2 separate regions of the Homo sapiens genome follow, and region 1 is linked to region 2. The links come from fine-mapping of genetic effects on gene expression. Tissue or cell type: gastroesophageal junction. Region 2 holds a variant in brackets; the other region holds the start of a gene. All regions are shown on one strand. Distances are between the middles of the regions.

The links. PIP is the estimated chance that this variant, and not a neighbour inherited with it, causes the effect.
Region 1: FARP1 starts here. The variant in region 2 is fine-mapped to the expression of FARP1 in gastroesophageal junction (GTEx, PIP 0.90).

What each region holds. Positions count from the first base shown.
Region 1 is chr13:98,138,846-98,148,764 of GRCh38, reverse strand. It overlaps FARP1 (FERM, ARH/RhoGEF and pleckstrin domain protein 1), which reads right to left and starts at 5,671. Exons shown (of 27, transcript NM_005766.4): 1 at 5,273-5,671. LOC105370328 (a long non-coding RNA gene) reads left to right here and starts at 4,855. Exons shown (of 3, transcript XR_931670.4): 1 at 4,855-4,926. RefSeq lists silencers at 5,621-5,930, 6,171-6,220.
Region 2 is chr13:98,178,676-98,188,594 of GRCh38, reverse strand. The region is part of intron 1 of FARP1 (FERM, ARH/RhoGEF and pleckstrin domain protein 1); the gene reads right to left. Among named protein-coding and RNA genes, the nearest start is that of RNF113B, 6.4 kb to the right of the region's middle. The variant G/A (reference allele first, on the strand shown) is at 6,056.

The sequences.
Region 1 (9,919 bases), 40 kb after region 2:
GAACACAGCTGATTAATACAGGAACAATACAGAATTGCACACCCAGATAAACTTACCATTCAAGAACAAAGGTATCTAAGACATGCAGAAACTGAAGTTACCACCAACAGATGCTAACAGAATTTCTAGAAGATGTGTCTCAGGAAGAAGGAAAATGTATCCCAGAAGCAAGCTTCAAAGTACAAAAAGGAATGGTGAGCACATTAAATTTACAGACAAGTACCATATAAAACAATTAGAATGTCAAATTTGGCGCAGGTTAAGAAATGAGAAGGCTATATAAAAGAACAGATCCCAAAATGCTAAGGTAGGAGTCAGTAACAGGTGGCAGGATTTCAAGTTTGTTTTATTTTCTTCTTCATGCTTTTATTGTCTTGTGTTTTCTTGAAACGGAGTTTCACTTTTGTTGCCCAGGCTGGAGTACAATGGCGTAATCTCAGCTCACCACAACCTCCGCCTCCCGGGTTCCAGCGATTCTCCTGCCTCAGCCTCCCGAGTAGCTGGGATTACAGTCACGCGCCACCACGCCTGGCTAATTTTGTATTTTTAGTAGAGACGGGGTTTCTCCATGTTGGTCAGGCTGGTCTTGAACTCCTGACCTCAGATGATTCGCCCGCCTTGGCCTCCCTAAGTGCTGGGGTTACAGGCGTGAGCCACCGCACCTTATTGTCTTTTTTTTTGAAAAGGAACCTCTGTCTTTTTACAATCTGACTTAGCTTTAAGGATTCAATTGCTAAATTAGAATGAAATGAAAACAAAATCAAATATCAAACTGCCAGAACTGCAATCTATCAATTCTAATAACAAGTTTCCTTTAAAAACCCTAAAGACTAATTTGAAGGGATGGTAAAAACTGGATTTATTATTCATTCAACAAGGATTTACCAGACTGGGCAACATAGCGGTGAGACTCTCTAAGAAAAATTTTTTTAAAGAAAAAATTAGCTGGGCGTGATGGCATGTGTCTGTAGTCACAGCTACTCGGGAGACTGAGATGAAAGGATTGCTTGAGCCCAAGAGGTCAAGGCTGCAATGAGCCATGATCACCACTGCACTCCAGCCTCGAGTTTTTTTCAAAAAGAAAACAGAACACAATAATTTACCAAGGGTTTGCTATATTCAGATACTATACTAGATCCTGAATGAACAAGAACAAAAACTGAAAGTCATCATAATACTGGATTTTTAAGTCTTCTAATTGATAATAAATTTATGCAAAGCATTTCGTCAAAAGTCTGCACATAAAGTGAAGTTACTCTTGTGGTCAGAGGTTATTATCATAATTGAGAGTTAAAGGCAGTCTAGTGTGGCCTGAGGCTCTTCTTTTTTTTAATGTGTGAACAAATATGACAGTTTTACATATGAAATTCATTCAGTGTAAATGATGAATTCCCACATTAATTGCAAGTCTTGAAGTTCATAATTTCCATCCCACATTAAACTAAGAAAACTTAAAATCTGAGTTAACAGTTTGCAGGCAGCACTGAGCATGCCTCAGTTTCAGTCTCGCCGGATTAGTATCAAAAGCTTCGAGCATGATATTTTAGTAATGTATCCATTATCCACTTTTGCTCAAAGTATCCACTTGGCCAAACATTTTTAACTAATTCAAACCAGGGCAAGGGCATCCTATAAAAAGTTTTGCCAGTTTTAAATACACGTTTTCTGGGGGCTTCTTGATTGAAAACAAAGGCTGCATTTGGCAGAACAGGACTGGAGAAATCAGTATTTCAAGTAATTTGAATGAAAACCGTTTGGCTCTGATCTTCCTGGCCATGTGGAAGTGGTTAAGGAGGTAACAGCCTACCTAAGTTGCCATGGGTGAAACAGAGAGAAAGGACTGTGACCCAGTACCACCACAGAATAAACTCTGACACTAAAAGACAAGAAAAGAAGTTGATCCGCTGCTTCCCATTCAATAGCCAGGCTTGGAGAGGCTCCTTTCAATCAAAAGCACCAAACAACAGGAGAGAGACTGCCACGAGAGCCTAAAACCCCACAGCCTCCCTTCCCAGGCAAACGGTAACCAATACAGGGAATGCCTGTCCTTCCAAAGTAGAAAGACTTTAGCACCTGCATTACAGGACTATACCTGCCCCTCTTATCTGTAGCACCTTCAGCTGGTGAGGAAAGTGCATTTCTCAAAAACACTAAGCAGTTATCTGCAATAAGCAAGGCCAGTTACAAAGGGCTTCTTTAAAATGTCCAGTCCACCATGCTATCAAAACATCAGGCAAGGCCAGGCTCTGTGACTCACGCCTGTAATCCCAGCACTTTGAGAGGCCGAAGCGGGCAAATCACCTGAGGTCAGGAGTTCAAGACCAGCCTGACCAACATGGAGAAACCCCGTCTCTACTAAAAACAGAAAATTAGTTGGGCATGGCGGCAAATGCCTGTAATCCCAGCTACTGGGGAGGCTGAGGCAGGAGAATCGCTTGAACCTGGGAGGCAGAGGTTTCAGTGAGCCGAGATTGCGCCATTGCACTCCAGCCTGGGAAACAAGAGCAAAACTCCATCTCAAAAAAAAAAATCAGGCAAGTACAGTACTTACAAATCCACAGAATTTCTCTTATCCTCTGGGAAAATCACAATGCCATTTTTCCTAAGCATATTCTGCCTGCAGAAACCAGCCTTTTATCCTTTCTCTAGTATTCTCTAATCCCGTCCAGGATGAAAAGAGTTGTTTTTTTCTGATGTTTATCACAAGCATCCTCCTCATAAATATATACAATTTTCCAAATGAATTAAGCTCTTAGGTGTTCAATAAATTAAATGAGTATAAGCTTCACTGTTTAAAAAAAACTAACCCTTTCAATGCTATCTTATTTGTATCTTTAACCAAAAAACAAAACAAAACAATTTCCTTGGGCAGTTCCTTTTTTCTCTTTTTTTTTTTTTTTTTTGAGACAGAGTCTCACTCTGTTGCCCAGGCTGGAGTGCAGTGGCCCAATCTCAACTCACTACAACCTCCGCCTCCTGGGTTCAGGCGATTCTCCTGGCTTAGCCTCTGAGCAGCTGGGATTACAGGCACCTGCTACCACCCCTGGCTAATTTTTGTATTTTTAGTAGAGACAGGGTTTCACCATATTAGCCAGGCTGGGAAATCCTGATCTCAAGTGATCCGCCTCGGTCTCCCAAAGTGCTGGGATTACAGGTGTGAGCCACCATGCCCAGCCCCCTTGGACAGTTTCTTTAACGAAAAGTGAAACAAAAACGTTCCTCCAGGTTCCTTGTAAACTCTGGATAATTCTGAGGTGAATGCAATAACCCAGTAAGAAACTTGTCCAGGATAATTATTTTAAGATCTTCTTTGATAAGTCTGGCTACAGAGTAAAGTTAACATTCTATTATGAAGCAAGGAATAAATCCATCCCTGTATCAATTAAAGGAAGAGAATATCAATGTGAAAGGGGGCATTAGAAACCACGCTTCAAAAGGATTCCCACAGTGACAGAACTTCTCAATGAAACACCACACCCCAAGTAACGGGGGCGGGGTGGTGCACCATAGAATCTGCCCCTAGGAGGCACAGCCACCTCCACACCGAGGGTTTCCAGTTTCCCATTCACATAAAAGAAACAAGTAAGAGATTCTGGGAGGCGCTGGGCTAGGAAGGCATCTACTCACTGTCTCCACCAACAATTCCCTCAGTAAAGCAGCCATTGCCCAATAATGCTTCTATTTATTTTACCCAGAAGCAGATCTATTAGCCAGACATTCTAAAAACACAAACGCTTCGTTGTGCTTGGAGTAACTCCAATATTGATGCCTTGCTGCAGAACGATGCTGCAGGAATATAAAGTGAGCCATGTGCTAGCTGTACCCACTTATGAAGCACACTGTCAGAAACTGTCACATCCTGGAGACCAACCCATCCGAAAGACTGAGAATAAACCCCCTACGAGAACACTGTGGAAGGAGGGAGAAAGCCAAAGATAGGATGAAGCAGGGCCCTCCTAAAGTCTCCGGAACAACGAAGCCAATTTTTAAGGCAACTCTCCCTAAAGCTTTCAGGACCAGAAAGATGTTTCTTTCTCCTCTCCTTGTTCAGACTGAATAAGAAAAGCAAGACAATGCTGGAGGATGTTCTGAAATGGGCTCCGCAAGTCACCACGTGCAAAGCACATTAAACAGAAGCCAGTGCTAGGCCAGGGTTTGGCTCTGAAGATGTTGCCTACTGGAAGGAGAGGGGCCCCCGGGGGTTTCCACGCAGAGACCAGGGCTGGGCGGTCAAACCTGGTAAACTGACAAGGAGAAGAGCCTTAACAACAATATAATGAAACGGCCAGAGGCCACCGGTACTCCCCAGGGCTGGGAGAGACAGGGAGGCCGAGGCTGCTAAACTGTTCCAGATGACAAGCAGGCTCTCCCACGTCTCCACGAACTGATCAGATACCAGGGCCTCGCTTCTTTGTGAGCCTCAGCTCCCTCCTTTCTGGGGAACCCTACTCGATCCCCAACAGCCGCTGGCCTCCAGCTGCCACAAACGAGATCCAGACTCATTACAGGGAATTCGTATTTCCCCCCCTCAAATAAAACACACACACACACACACACACACAGAGTCTCCGGGGTCCAGCCGGATCACACAGCTAAAGTTTCCGGAACTTGAATCGTAAAACCACAATCAGAAGTTGTTTGGAAATACTCGCCGCAAAGCAATCTGTCCTTTGCTTTAAAAAATAAAAAATAAAAAAAACTTTGCCCTGCATAAAGGCAGACAGTAAAGAGAGACACAAATCTAACTTGGGCAGAGGGTGTGTTCCTCTTTGTCACCCGCCGGGAACCCTCGCGCCGCGCGTGGGCGAGCGGCGGGCACCCGGCGGCATCCGCGCCAGCGGCCACCTCCCCGGCCCGCAACCGGCCTCAGGGGCCGAGATTGCGGCCCGAGGTCCGGAAGCGGCGTCCAGCGCTGTCAGCGGGCGGGTAGGACGGAAGGAAACGGGGGAAGGGCGCCGGGGTCGGGGGAGGCGAGCGGGGACCGGCGCGGAGCCCCGCAGCCCGACGTCGGCGGAGGTGAGGGGAGAGGGGCGCAGGGGGCAGCCCGGAGCCCCGAGGCCCCCGAGCTCCTGCGATGGTGGCCGGGGCTGCCCGGGCCCGACCCGCCGCCCGACTGCGCAGGGCAGGACCTCGGGGACCACGCGCCCACCTTCGCCCGCAGCCGCGGCCGTGCGCTGCGGGAGCCTGGACTCGCACAAGTTGCCGCCCGCGGCCCGGACCCCGCCGGCCCCCGCCCTCCCGCCGCGGTCATTGTTCACCGCGCGCCTCCTACCTCCACAGCGCCGGCGGCTGCGGCGGCTCCCTCTCCCGGCTCGGGCTCCGGGATCGGCGGCTCCCAAGCCCCCGGCGGCCGAGGGCGCGGCGGCGCCGGCTATTAATACCCGCGGGCGGCGGCGGCGCGGGCGCGCGAGCAGGGCTGGCGGTGGCCGGCTGAGGTCCGAGCCATCAAAGGTGGCGCGGGGCGGAGGGGAGGGCGGAGCAGGCGGGGTGGGTGGGGAGCGGGCTCCGGGTCGCCATGGCCGCCTCGACGCCGGGGCCAGCGCTACTCGCGCAGGGAGGAGCGGCGCAAAGCGGGCAGCGGCCGCGTCCCCGCCCCGCGCCCCAGCCGAGCGCCCGCACCGCTGCGCCCGCGCCGGACCCGCCGCCTCTGAGGCCGGCGAGCGGGAAGTGCAGTGGCCACCGCCCCTCCCCGGGTCTGGGCCGGCCCCTCGGCGGGGGGAGGCGGGCGCCGCGCAGCCCGAGCAGCGGGGACGCGGGAGAGCCACAGCCCCCTCCAGCGTCCGGGCCCGCGCCCTGCGCCCGCCCCGCCCCGCTCCGCTCCGCCCGGGCAGGTGCGCCCAGGGGCCTCCCGAGCCCAGCGCGCCGCCGGGGATCTGCGCCTCTCTTGGGCTTCCGGCCAGGGCCGGGCTCCGCGCGGCGCTACCTAATGCAGCGCGGGGAGCGCCACTGGCGAGACGCGAATCCAGCAGCTGTGGCGAAAAACGAACCGGGGAGAGCGGGAGACGTGTGCACGGCGAAGCCGGGAGCGGCAGGCGGGCGGTCAGGGGCTCGGACTCTGCAGGTCGCTTTTTGAGGTCCTGCCTGGGGCTGCTTCGCCTGCGACGTCGCGCGGGGAGGACAGTCTTCAGGGACCCACCGAGCCCTCCCCTCCCCCGGAGCCACAGGCACGGGCTTCCGGCACCACCCCGGGCTGCGCGGGACTTAAGCTTGGGGGAGCGGCGGCCACCCCGCGCCCGCCCACGTCCTGGCCCAGCGCCCTCCGCCCGAGCGAATCCCATGACAGTTCCCGCCCGCCCAGCCTCGGGGGACAGTGCCCTTGGGGAATGGCGTGGGGGAGGTTAGGAGTGGCTTGCGGTGCTTGAGAGCCTTCGGGGTTTCGGGAACTCTACGGAGCGGGGAGCAAGATTCAGGACCCAGGAGGCAGCGATCTAGGGGCACAGTCACCGTCCCCACCCAGCAGCTGCCGCGTTACCTTCTCTTCCCCCTTCTGAGCCTCCAGTCCCTCTCTCTAAGCGTGGCGGGAAGAGGCCTAGGGCGCAGCAAGTGACGTTCTGCCAGACCCGGGGCTAGCGGATTCCGGCCTTCGGAGGCCACTGGCTCAGAACCGTGGGCCTTTTGCGTCTTACAGGAGTTCCCTGACCTCAGACCGAGAGGGCAGATTTCACGGGAGAGGCCTCAAGTGAACTCACAGCTGGACAGGAGCTGGGCAGAAGTGGAGTGTAGGGACCCTGATAGAAGGGCGGGTTGAGACAAGAACAGGGGTCTTGGAAGTAGGGGGTGCTTGTGGGCAGCTCCTGGGGAGGAGCAGAGATGTAATACTTGCAGATTTGGTGGTCTGTGGTTGAAGAGAAGAAATGGTGGGTTTGAGGCTTTGCTCTGTCAGCCCAACCAGCTGTGTGTCACAGATCAGATTTTTTTCTGCTCGTGATTCTCTAAGTGTGGTTCTCAGACCACGACCACCACCAGCAGCCCCTGGAAACGTCAAGAAATGAACATTCTTGGGCCGCATCCCCGACCTACCTAATGAAACCTTAGCAAGCATCTGAATCGCCTGCAGGGATAAAGGACTGTCAGGCTCCATCCCCAGAGCTGCCGATTCAGTAGGTTTGGGGTGGGGCCTGAGAGTTTGCATTTCTAACAAATTCCCAGATAGTGATGTTGCTCTGGTCCTGGGATCACACTTGGAGGATCACAGTGTTAGGACAGTGGGTCTCAAACTCATGGAATCATCTGCGATTAAAAAACAACACCCTGGTTGCACCCCAGCCAAATATATAAAGATTCTAACCCAGGCATCAGTAAAGTTCCGCAGGTGATTCCAGTGTGTAGCCAGGTTTGAGAACAGTTGCTGTAGGCGGCTTTTTAAACTCTAGTGTATACCTGAATCACCAGGGAATCTTGTTGGAATGCAGATTCTGATTCAGTAAGTCTGAGACTGTTTCTAACAAGCTCTCAGGTGTTACTTGCTGGTCCAAGGACTACACGTAGTAGCAAAGTGCTATGTCATACCTCCCAACTAAAAGGAAAAAATTAGGCCGGGCGCGGTGGCTCACTCCTGTAATCCCAATACTTTGGGAGGCTGAGGCAGGTGGATCACCTGAGGTCAGGAACTTGTAAACCAGCCTGGCCAGCATGGGGAAACCTCGTCTCTACTGAAAATACAAAAATTAGCTGGGCGTGGTGGTGCGCGCCTGCAATCCCAGCTACTCGGGAGGCTGAGGCATGAGAATTGCTTGAACCCGGGAGGCAGAGGTTGCAGTGAGCCGAGATCGTGCCATTGCACTCCAGCCTGGGCAACAAAGTGAGACTCCATCTCAAAAAAAAAATCATAAAAATAATAAAAGCAAAAAATCATAGAAAGCGCAGAAAATTAGAAAAGTGACATTTTCCCAGTCACTCTCTTTGCAAGACCGACATTTTCTACATGTTACAGCATTTCTTTCATAGTCTTTGTATGTCTAGAATTAGATTTAGTTGTGATCTTAAAACTATTTATGATCATAACACATAATATATTGATCATATTAATCAATATGATAATACATAATATCCCATGTTGCCTTATCTCAACATTATCAACATTTGTGAAGGTGACTTTTAAAGGAGCCGTTCTGAGGTTTGCAGGCTGAGGGCAGGAGCCCATGGGGAGAGAGTTAATGGGGGAAAAGAGAGGGGAGAAGGGGCAGTTCTGGGAATCTAGTTAGAGAGGCTGTAAAGCGGTGGGGTCACACTAGAGAACTTCCTACGTTTCCTCCCAGCTCTCACCAACATTCCGCGGTTGGTACCTAACCTGATAGAAAGTACTGTTTCTTTTAAGAGAGGGTCTTGGCTGGGCGCTGTGGCTCAAGCCTGTAATCCCAGCACTTTGGGAGGCCAAGGCAGGCAGATCACGAGGTCAGGAGATCAAGACCATCCTGGCTAACACGGTGAAACCCCGTCTCTACTAAAAATACAAAAAATTAGCCAGGCATGGTGGCCGGCGCCTGTAGTCCTATCTACTTGGGAGGCTGAGGCAGGAGAATGGCGTGAACCCGGGAGGCAGAGCGTGCAGTGAGCCGAGACCACACCACTGCATTCCAACCCGGGCGACAGAGCGAGACTCCGTCTCAAGAAAGAAAAAAAAAGGAGTCTCGCTCTGTTGCCCAGGCTGGAGTGCAGTGGCACAAACATAGCTCACTGCAGCCTCGAACTCCTAGGCTCAAGTGATCCCCCTGCCTTGGCCTTCCAAAGTTCTGGGATTACAGGCATAAGGCCATCGTGCCTGGCCAGAAAGCACTTTTTAAATTCCTCTCCCTGAAAAGCCAGGGGTACCTGGCCTCGAAAATCCTGAACCTGGAAAATCAACTTCTGAAAAACTTAGGCGTTTCCTTGTCATTGTGTGTCATTTATGCTTAACTTTCAGAATATAAAAATGTATAATCCCCCTAGATCCCCCTTTTATCCCAAGCTGTGGCATGGGTTATTTAGAAATCTTTCTGGATTAAGGAATCACCCTGTGCTTAACAATTCCTCTTATTAATTTTAACTGTTTTACTGTAAAACGTGTGTACATGTCAAGATAAAATTAAGCAGTATAGAAGAGTATGAAGTGAAACCTAGAAGGAACCCTTCCTGCATCCCTAATCTCGCTTCTTAGAAATAATTTTCCCAACAGTTTTTACAGTCTTTCAGGAATTTTCTGCTCATATACAAAAGTGTGTGGGGGCAAGCAAATCTTTCATATTAAGAGATCACACGTCACAGTGAAACACAACTTTTTATTCCATAGTTCCCTCCCCTTCAACACATCACCTTTCGGAGAACCTGGGTTTAGGGTGATGATGCTCTCTGGACGTGACAGTATGCACTGACAGTAACTGAGGCAGCCTGTATTAAAACCCAAGGCGGAAAGAGATCTGCTTGTAGCATTTGTGGTGGGCTCATTCTGTGTAATCCCCCTGCCTTGAGTGTGACCTAGTGACTCGCTGCTAATGGATAGAATACAGAAAAGGAAGGCAGTGTCACTTCTGTGATTAGGTCACAGAGCACTGTAACTTTTTTTTTTTTTAGACGGAGTCTCACTCTGTCGTCCAGGCTGGAGTGCAGTGGTGCAATCTCGGCTCACTGCAACCTCTGCCTCCTGGATTTAAGCAATTCTCTGCCTCAGCCTCCTGAGTAGCTGGGATTACAGGCGCGTGCCACCACACCCGGCTAATTTTTGTATTTTTAGTAGAGACGGGGTTTCACCATCTTGGCCAGGCTGGTCTTGAACTCCTGACCTCGTGATCCACCCGCCTCAGCCTCCCAAAGTGCTGGGATTACAGGCGTGAGCCACCGCGCCAGGCCCATAACTTCTTACTGATACGGTCTTGCCCTCTCATTTGCTCACTTTGATGAAGCCAGCTGCCATGTTGTAAGATGTCCTATGGAGGACCCACAG
Region 2 (9,919 bases):
GCTAGAAAACTTCTTTCTCCTTTTTTTTTCTTTTGAGACGGAGTCTCACCCTGTCCCCCAGGCTGGAGTGTAATGGCATGATCTCGGCTCACTGCAACCTCCACCTCCAGGATTCAAGCGATTCTCCTGCCTCAGCCTCCCGAGTAGCTGGGATTACAGGCACACACCACCACGCCCAGCTTTATTTTTTTTCTTTGTATTTTTAGTAGAGACGGGGTTTCACCAGTGTTGGTCAGGCTGGTCTCGAACTCCTGACCTCGTGATCCGCCCGCCTCGGCCTCCCAAAGTGCTGGGATTACAGGTGTGAGCCACCGCACCCGGCCTGAAACTTCTTTAACAAATATTTATGAAGGCTTCTTTCTTACAGAAACTGTTCTGTTCAGGACACTCCTGTGAACAAGAGGCCCACGTGGGTGCTGCCGAAATGCGAGGGGTGTTCGGCCCCACCAGGAAAGTCCACTCAACCTGAACAACAAGCGGCAGCCATGTTCAAGCAGGCAGGGCTGCCAACTCACGCTCAGCAGAGCAAACTGCACCCAATCCAAGGGACCGCAGAGTTCTGAGAACATTTGCTCTCCCAGCTTAAAATAGCAAATGTGAACACTTTTCCTCAGGACTTTCATTTTCTTTGTCTCAAGTCAAAATAATTGTCTTCATGATTGACTGACTCCCCAAAGAGGGTTCAACATTTATTACATGTCATACTGAACAGCATGCTTTGCAGATTAAAATAGAACAAGACTCTGGTCACAGAAATTACATCAACAGGAGGAAAATGAAAATAAGATAACTAACTGTACATGTCCCCAACAGCCCTCTCCACTAGATTATTTCAACAGCCACACGATTTCTGCAGCTATAGTCTCCAGCTCCATATGGTAATCCAGCAACTTCTGGACTCAAATGATTTCCACTCAGCTATAACCATGTTGCTCTCCTGCTCAAAGCCTTCCACAGCTCTCATCACCTACGAAGTTGAATAAGTTATTTCGCCTGACATTCAAGGCCCTGTAAGGTGACATGAACTTACTTTCCAAGACTTTCTCTATTTCTCCCCAGGACACAGAGCCCCCTTCCTTACCACTGCCTGGATCCTCCTCCCCCACATCTCCACCTGCCAACATTCTGCTCCTTTATCAAAGATTATCTCAAATGCCATGAAACTTTTTCCATTCCCCTCTATTTGGGAGCTCAAAGCATCTTGTGTTTCTCTTCTGACACTTATCATACGGTGCCTTATGTGACAGCATCTCCACTCTTAATTGGGCTATCACATTACAGTGTAAACATTCAAATATGAGATATGTTGAAAGAACACCATCACCAAAGAGGAGGCTCACAGAAAGACATTCTACCTGCAAGGGAAGGGACATAAGTCAGTGCAATCATTTTGGAAAGATACATTAGTTTCCAGGTCAAAAAATAATGAATGAGCTGTAGAAAATGGAATGGCAATTCCTCAAAAAATTAAATATAGAATTGCCATACGATACAGTGATTCCACTTCTGGGTATAAACTCAAAAGAAATGGAAGGAGGGATTTGAACACATATATCTGTATGTGCACGTTAATGGCTTTTTTTTTTTTTTTTTTTTTTTTTTTGAGACAGAATCTCGCTCCATCTCCCAGGCTAGAGTGCAGTGGCGCGATCTTGGCTCACTGCAACCTCTAACTCCTGGGTTCAAGCAATTCTTACGCCTCAGCCTCCTGAGTAGCTGGGATTACAGGCACATGCCACCACGCCCAGCTAATTTTTGTATTTTTAGTAGAGATGGAGTTTCACCACGTTGGCCAGGCTACTCTTGAACTCCTGACCTCAACTGATCCACCCACCTCGACCTCCCAAAGTGCTGGGATTACAGGTGTGAGCCACCACGCCCGGCCCATATCATCTTTATTCACAACAGCCAAAACGTAGAAGCAACAAATAGATGGATAAACAAAACATGGGATATACATACAATGGATTATTACGCAGCCTTTAAAAAGAAGGAAATTCTGACGCATGCTACAACATGAAGCACGAAGAGATTATGCTAAGTGAAATTAGCCAGTCACAAAAGGATGACTACTGTATGATGCTCCTTACATGAGATATCCAGAACAGGGAAATTCAGACAGACAGAAAGTAGAAGAGTTACCAGGGGCAGGGGAGAGAGAGAAGAAAGATGGAAAATGTTCTGGAGCGCCAGGCGCGGTGGCTCACATCTGTAATCCCAGCACTTTGGGAGGTCGAGGTGGGTGGATCACCTGAAGTTGGGAGTTCAAGATCAGCCTGATCAACATGGAGAAACCCCATCTCTACTAAAAATACAAAAAGTTAGCCAGGCGTGGTGGCTCATGCCTGTAATCCCAGCTACTCAGGAGGCTGAGGCAGGAGAATCGCTTGAACCAGGGAGGCAGAGGTTGCGGTGAGCCAAGATCGTGCCATTGCACTCCAGCCAGCCTGGGCAACAAGAGCGAAACTCCGTTTCAAAAAAAAAGAAAAGAAAAAGAAAACGTTCTGCAGATAGATGATGGTGATGGTGGCACAATAATGTGAGTGCACTGAATACCACTGTGCTGCATGCTTGAAAATGATCAAAACAGTAAATGTGGCCGGACGCGGTGGCTCACGCCTATAATCTCAGCACTTTGGGAGGCCGAGGCAGGCGGATCACCTGAGGTCAGGAGTTCGAGACCAGCCTAGTCAACATGGAAAAACCCTGTCTCTACTAAAATTACAAAAATTAGCCGGGCATGGTGGCACGCACCTATAATCCCAGCTACTTGGGAGGCTGAGGCAGGAAAACTGCTTGAACCCAGGAGGCGGAGGTTGCAGTGAGCTGAGATCGTGCCACTGCATTCCAGCCTGGGCGACAGAGAGAGACTCCATCTCAAAAAAACAAACAAACAAACCCATCAAATTTTATGCATATTTTACCACCACAGCCAAAAAAAAAAAAAACTAATTATCAGAATCAAAATCACCTGGTATGTGTTAAAAGGTTTCTAAAGGAACCTATGCTGCTTCCCAGGAATGGTATCAAGAAAGGTAGCATCCCATTTCGAATGCCAAGAAAATTACATACTAAAGAGCAGAGCACTTGCTTATCTCCCCAAGTTTTCTATGGGTGTTCTGATCACGAGGAACCTTAAACAGAAAAGGAAGCCCCCCCAACATAAAGATCTAGGACAAAACGACACCTGAACCAACCATAGAGAGCTTTATCTTACCAATCCCAACGCCTGCATGCTTCACTTTCTTGACTTGCCCTGTTAAGCCCTTTCTAAAAATTCAAGGGCTCTTTCCAGCGGTATACTGCTTTTGTATCAACTCATGGGGACCTGCTGTTAAATTTTCAGGAATTTTTACCAGCCAGTTATTATATAAAGATATGGATTAAAATAAATTATATCAATATTTATTAAGCATAAATTTTACAGAAGTAATGAATACTCAAAAATCATCACTTCCCAATTATTTTACATTTTACTTTTATCTATCTGTGATTGTGAGGTTATTTTGCCTGCTGCATCTGGATGGTAACAATACTACATAGGAATGTGCTACCACACACTTTTTCCTAACTCTGTGTGCAATGATGTCATGTTGGTAGCCTGCAACTGGCCATGGTGGAAATATTTACACCACGGAAACTGGCAAACTCTATGAATTAGAGTTTTGTTTTTGTTTTTCAAGAGAGCTGGTTGTGAAACTGGTTCTTCCCTGTTCAAAGTATCTTGTCAATAAAATTATGTATTTTAAAATACACTTGAAGTATTTGCCAAAAACATCAGAATGAATTTATTTTAATCCACAAAAGAGAGTAGACACGGTACTAGAAACAATCTTTTTAAAAACAAGTCCCTCACAAATTCTTAGAGCATAGGATCACTGAGAAAATGTAAAGGCTGTGGAGTTGGCCACTGCTATACACCATCACCAAAGGCGGAAGCAGGATGGACATTAGGAATCCAGGCAATCGCATTTTGGTATTTTTTTCCCTTCAAATATTTTTTAATGTAGAGTCGTACTTCCTTAAGAAGCAACAACAGGTGAATCACACTCCACATACTGTTTCATAAAGCACCTTTACATGTTAATATAGTATGAACAATTTTCCAAAAATCAAATAACCTCCTACATCCTTATTAGCACAGAACTTTAAAATGACACATTAAAATGACACATTAAAAGGCAGCCGGGCGTGGTGGCTCATGCCTGTAATCCCAGCACTTTGGGAGGCAGGTGGATCACCTGAAGTCACGAGTTCGAAAGCAGCCTGGCCAACACGGTGAAACCCCATCTCTACTAAAAATACAAAAATTAGCCGGGTGGGGTGGCAGGCGCCTACAATCCCAGCTTCTTGGGAGGCTGAGGCAGGAGAATCGCTTGAACCCAGAAGGCAGAGGTTGCAGTGAGCCGAGATCTCACCACCACTCTCCGGCCTGGGCAACAAGAGTGAAAACTCCATCTCAAAAAAAAACAAACAAAAAACAATGCTTGCTGGCTTTTTGAGTCTGACACTGCTCTCCCTTCTCAAGTATTTTAAAAGTTAAAATCTAACTGGGAAGGTGGAACTGAAGGAGAAACCATGTGGATGTCATTTTTAATACCTATGACCTGGCCTGGATTAACAAGGAAAGTGAGGGTGAAGAAAGGGCCTGGGGGAACAACCGCCATGCCCACCATATGTCAAGCCTCAGAGAGCCAGGGCGCTAAGGGGACTGGCTGTGAGAGAGACACACAAGCCTCCTAAAAGCCAAAAACCGAAGGAGGATCATTCTCAAGGTAAAAGAAATAACAATTGTTTGGAGGACAGTGGAGGCAGCGAGTATGAGCAGGTTTCACAACACTCCCCACCCCTGCCTTCCAGTCCTCAGCATACCCCACACCAGTTTTTGCGGCAAACAGCTCGGCCTCATTCAAAGATGAGCGACCACTGAATAAGAACACAGGCAAAGGCAGCTAATAAGGTGCGTTTGTAAAAATAATCAACAGAAGCTGCTGCATAACAAAAATGCAGTGCCCGCTGTTCAGAAATTATTAACAATTTCAAGACAATGACGGGAGCATTCGTCCAAGCGTGGACCCTTAAGTGGATGCAGAGGTCCCATGCCCAGGAATCTGGGCCTGAAAAACGAAGGTAACAGACTAAGAGCTCAGAAAAAATAGTCCTCCATTGTCTCAAAAATATTAAAGATAAAATGGTCCTTCTAAAAATGGGGAGCTCAGAGACTAGATATGAAGTTCCAAAGAACTGACAGTCATCAATCTAAGAGATTTTAAATGGACTGATAGAGTTGAAGAAATAAATGGACTAGAAAAAAAAATATCCAGAATGGAAGCCACACAACTACAGTAAAACATAGTGTAAGCTTCTGTAAACAGAGGCAGAGAACAAACAAGGAAATCACTCAAAATTACTAAAAAGGAACAACAAGAGGGACAAAGATACACAAATGATAATAAGAATAGATGCTAGATTTAGAAGGCAAAGAAGATAAAACCTAACAACTATGGTTCCCAAAAAGTGAGCACCATTCAAAATATATGCAAAAATATTAAAGGATCTTAAAATTTTACTGATATAAAGACAGACTTGAATCAACAGATATTATGGTATAGGACATACCAGGAAAGTGACATAAAACAGCCAATGCCCAAGCAATGCTGGTAAAACTCTAAACTTCAAAAAGAATCAGAGAACCTCATGGGCACATCCAATGGAAAAAGCTAGTCATGTGCAAAAGAAAGAAACATTAACCCAGCCTCAGCTTTCTCTTCCAGAAATATCCAGTGCTAAAAAAGAATGGGAGCAATGTCTAAGAAATTCTGAGGGCAAGAACGTGTGGCCCAAGACCTTGGTACTCGGCCAAATTGTCCTTCAAATATAAAAGCAAGGAACAGCTATCCTTAAGTGTTAAGACCTCAAGGAACACAGTACCTACCAGGGCTTCTCTAAATAAAATAATGTGGCTGGATGCGGCCACACTGGGTTTACCCCTGTAATCCCAGCACTTTGGAAGGCCAAGGCAGGTAGATCACTAAAGCCCGGGAGTTTGAGACCA[G/A]CCTGGGCAATATGGCGAGACTCAGTCTCTACAAAAAATACAAAAATCAGCCAGGTGTGGGGGCGTGTGCCTGTAAGTCCCAGCTACTCAGGAGGCTGAGATAGGAGGATCACTTGAGTCCAGGAGGGTGAGGCAGCAGTGAGCCATGATGGCACCACTGCACTCCAGCCTGGGCGACAGGGCAAGATCCTGTCTCAAAAAATAAAATCGATTAAATAAATAAAACAATGAACCAACCAATGAGTCAAAATTTAAAACTCAAGCAAGGTAAAAAAAAACAGTAAAAAGACTAACAAGTTCTGAATCCATCCTAAAAGGGGACTAAGTCAAAGAGCTATGGGAATTGTGGCATTATTAGAATAGAAATGTTACAATCCTTCACACTGTAAAATTCATAATTAACTGATAAAATTTTGGAGCTTGGGAAAGAGGGGGAGCATAGGTCAGTTCTATTTTTTTTTTAGCTTTCAAAGGAGAGAGTCTCACAAACTCATAGTTTATAAGAAATTATTCTAATCTCTTAGTATTTATTATTTATCATCTTGTCATAAATTTAGTTTCTAAAAGATAGCGCTAATCTCTCTTGCAATGAAGTCAGCATTTCTATCTTGCTTTAGTTTCTTTTCCTTTGCTTTAATTCAAGTCTATTTTATTTTACATCTTTAAGTATTAAATACCATGTGTGATAAGACCCCATGACCATGGCAAGTTCTAGACAGGGCTCAAAAAATGTTACCAACATCATTGGCCAGGCACAGTGGCTCATGTCTATAATCCCAGCACTTTGGGAGGCCAAGGCAGGAGGATCGCTTGAGCCTAGGAGTTTGAGGTTACACTGAACTGTGATTGCGCCACACACCCCTGGGCAACAGTGAGACTCTCTCTCTCTCTCTCTCAAATAAATAAATAAATAAATAAATAAATAAATAAATAAATAAATAATATTATTTCTAAATGGTAAGATTTAGGGTGAGGTTTTTCATTTCTTCTTTTTACTTTTTTGTATTTTTTTTATAATGAGAATGTATCACTTCTTCCCAAACAAGTCACTTTTTAATAATAAAGAACAATCTTTTCATTACTACCTAAGAAACTGACTTTATTGGTTTTGCTCTTCTCCATCGCTGCCAGCCAGGCAAAAATCTAAACTTAAGTCTATTCACTTATTATTCTTCCTCTTATACCCCACTTTGCAGGGGATAAAACTGAAATCCAGGGCAGTTAGGTCATTTGCTGTCGGTCACAGCGCCAGGATGTAACCTCAGACAGCCAAGCTACGTTAACATGTGAGCTGACAGAATTACTGAAGTTCATTTGGTTCATCCCAATTTTTTCCTTCACTTAGTAGGCATGTGTGGACCTAAACCAGCAGGGAGAAGTGCTATCTGCAATGAAACGGCCATACTCATGCATGTCTGGTGGATGTACATACAATACAACTCTTTCAGAAAGCAACAAGAGCAAAATTCTGTCTTAAAAAAAAAAAGACTTAAAAATGCTTAAACTCTGTAATTCTGTTTGTAGGAATCAACCCTAAGAAAACAAATGTAAACACAGGGAAAGGTATATAAATGAGGAAACACATAATCTAACAACAGAGTATTAGGACAATAAGGCATCATAGACTCATACAATTGATCATTATGCAGGCATTAAAATGCACATTATGGAGAAATACTAAGGAACAGGGGAAAATACTTATCAAGTGAAGACAGCCCACTACCATTCCTCATTCAACACAGCAGACTGCACTCAGGCATTCACCCCTATTCCCTCCCAAAATCCCACTAAAATGATAAACATTACTTTACAAAGGCAGATTCCCACAAAAGGAGCCAGAAGAAAGAGACACCAGAGAAAACAAGAACATCAATAATATTTTAGAAGAAATAAAGTGAGCTGAAAAATCTCAACTAACTTGGAAGAAGGCTGAAACTGAAGGCTGTGGAGGGAGATGACAAGCAGCAGCATGCCAATTTCAAGACAAATCCCAGGAACTGCAAGAATCAAGTATCACTGGAAACAGATATGGCTCCACACAAGAAGACTGGCTGAGAATCTGAAAATTTTCTGATACGGTTTGGATGTCTGTCCCCTCCAAATCTCATGTTGAAATGTGGTTAGTGTTGGAGGTAGGGCCTGGTGGGAGGTGACTGGATCATGGGGGTGGATGCCTCATGAGTGGTTTAGCACCATTTCCTGGGTGCTCACCCAGGGATCTTGTTCTGGTTGTTTAGAAGTACGTGGCCCCTCCCCACTCTCACTCCCACTCTTGCCATGTGACACAGCCTGCTCCCCCTTTGCCTTCCACTGTGATCAACTGGAAGTTTACTGGGGCCATCACCAGAAGCAGATACCAACGCCATGCTGCTTGTACAGCCTACAGAATTACAAGTCAATTAATCCTCTCTTCTTTATAAATTACCTAGCCTCAGGCATTCCTTTATAGCAATGCAAAACTAACACAATCTCCCACCCCATGCAGCCTTTCCCTAGCCTTTCCCTAGCCTGGCTACCCTTTCCCTAGCCCGGCAGAAGCAGGAGATATCTCTTCTGTGGAGGCTGAATCTAGGAGGGCCTAAGCTCAAAGGGCCCGGGAACAACCAAAGGTGGGAATCAGATGCTTTACTAAAAATGAGGAATTAAGTCAAAAGTTTTTTGTTTTGTTTTGTTTTGTTTTTTTGAGATGGAGTCTTGCTCAGTCACCCAGGCTGGAGTGCAGTGGCTTGATCTCGGCTCACTGTAAGCTCTGCCTCCCGGGTTCACGCCATTCTCCTGCCTCAGCCTTCCGAGTAGCTGGGGCTACAGGCACCCGCCACCACGCCCAGCTAATTTTTTTTTCTATTTTTAGTAGAGATGGGGTAGACCAGGATGGTCTCGATCTCCTGACCTCGTGATCCACCTGCCTCAGCCTCCCAAAGTGCTGGGATTATAGGTGTGAGCCACCATGCCAGGCCAAGTCAAAGTTTATACCCCAAATTATAAGGCCTTCCCTTCCCAGCCCACTTCTACAGCTCTTATCACAGAATTCTGGCAGCAAAGATCACACCCCACAGCGGAATGTGAGATAAGTCTTCTCTGTAGAAACTCGAGAACCCAGCAGAAAAGACCTATGGACACTGATATGGTTTGGCTATGTCCCCACCCAAATCTTGAATGGTAGCTCCCAAAATTCTCTTGTGTTGTGGGAGAGACCCAGTTACCAGAGATAACTGAATCATGGGGGCAGTTTCCCCCATACTGTTCTTGTGGTAGTGAATAAATCCCATGAGATCTGATGGTTTTATAAGGGCAAACCCCTTTCACTTGGTTCTCATTCTGTTCTCGTCTGCTGCCATGCGAGACATGCCTTTCACCTTCTACCATGGATTGTGAGACCTCCCTAGCCACATGGAAATGTAAGTCCATTAAGCCTTTTTCTTTTGTAAATTACCCAGTCTCAGGTGTGTCTTTATCAGCAGCGTGAAAACGGACTAATATGGACACCAACATCTGGGGGTCTCCAAGAAAAAAGATGGGTTCCAACTGAATCACACAAAGGACAGTCCAGTGTACAAGCCCAACAATACCGATGGATTCCAGCCAGCTTTTAGGCACCTCACTCTGAAGTATAAACAGCTGGAGATAACCAAGTATTTTAGAAAAGCTTCCAACATGAAAGATGGGATGATAACAGTTGAAGAAAAATCTAGAATTACTATCCTAAGAGAAAACTGACAAATGATGAATTGTTCTTTACACTGTAAGCTTATTCATCACATTTCCAACAGCTGAGGATGCCTTGGTGTCTAGGAAGAGAGACCCACACAACTTCTCCCTCATCCCACAGCAGCCAGTGTTTTGGGGGCACTACAAGTGAGCTGA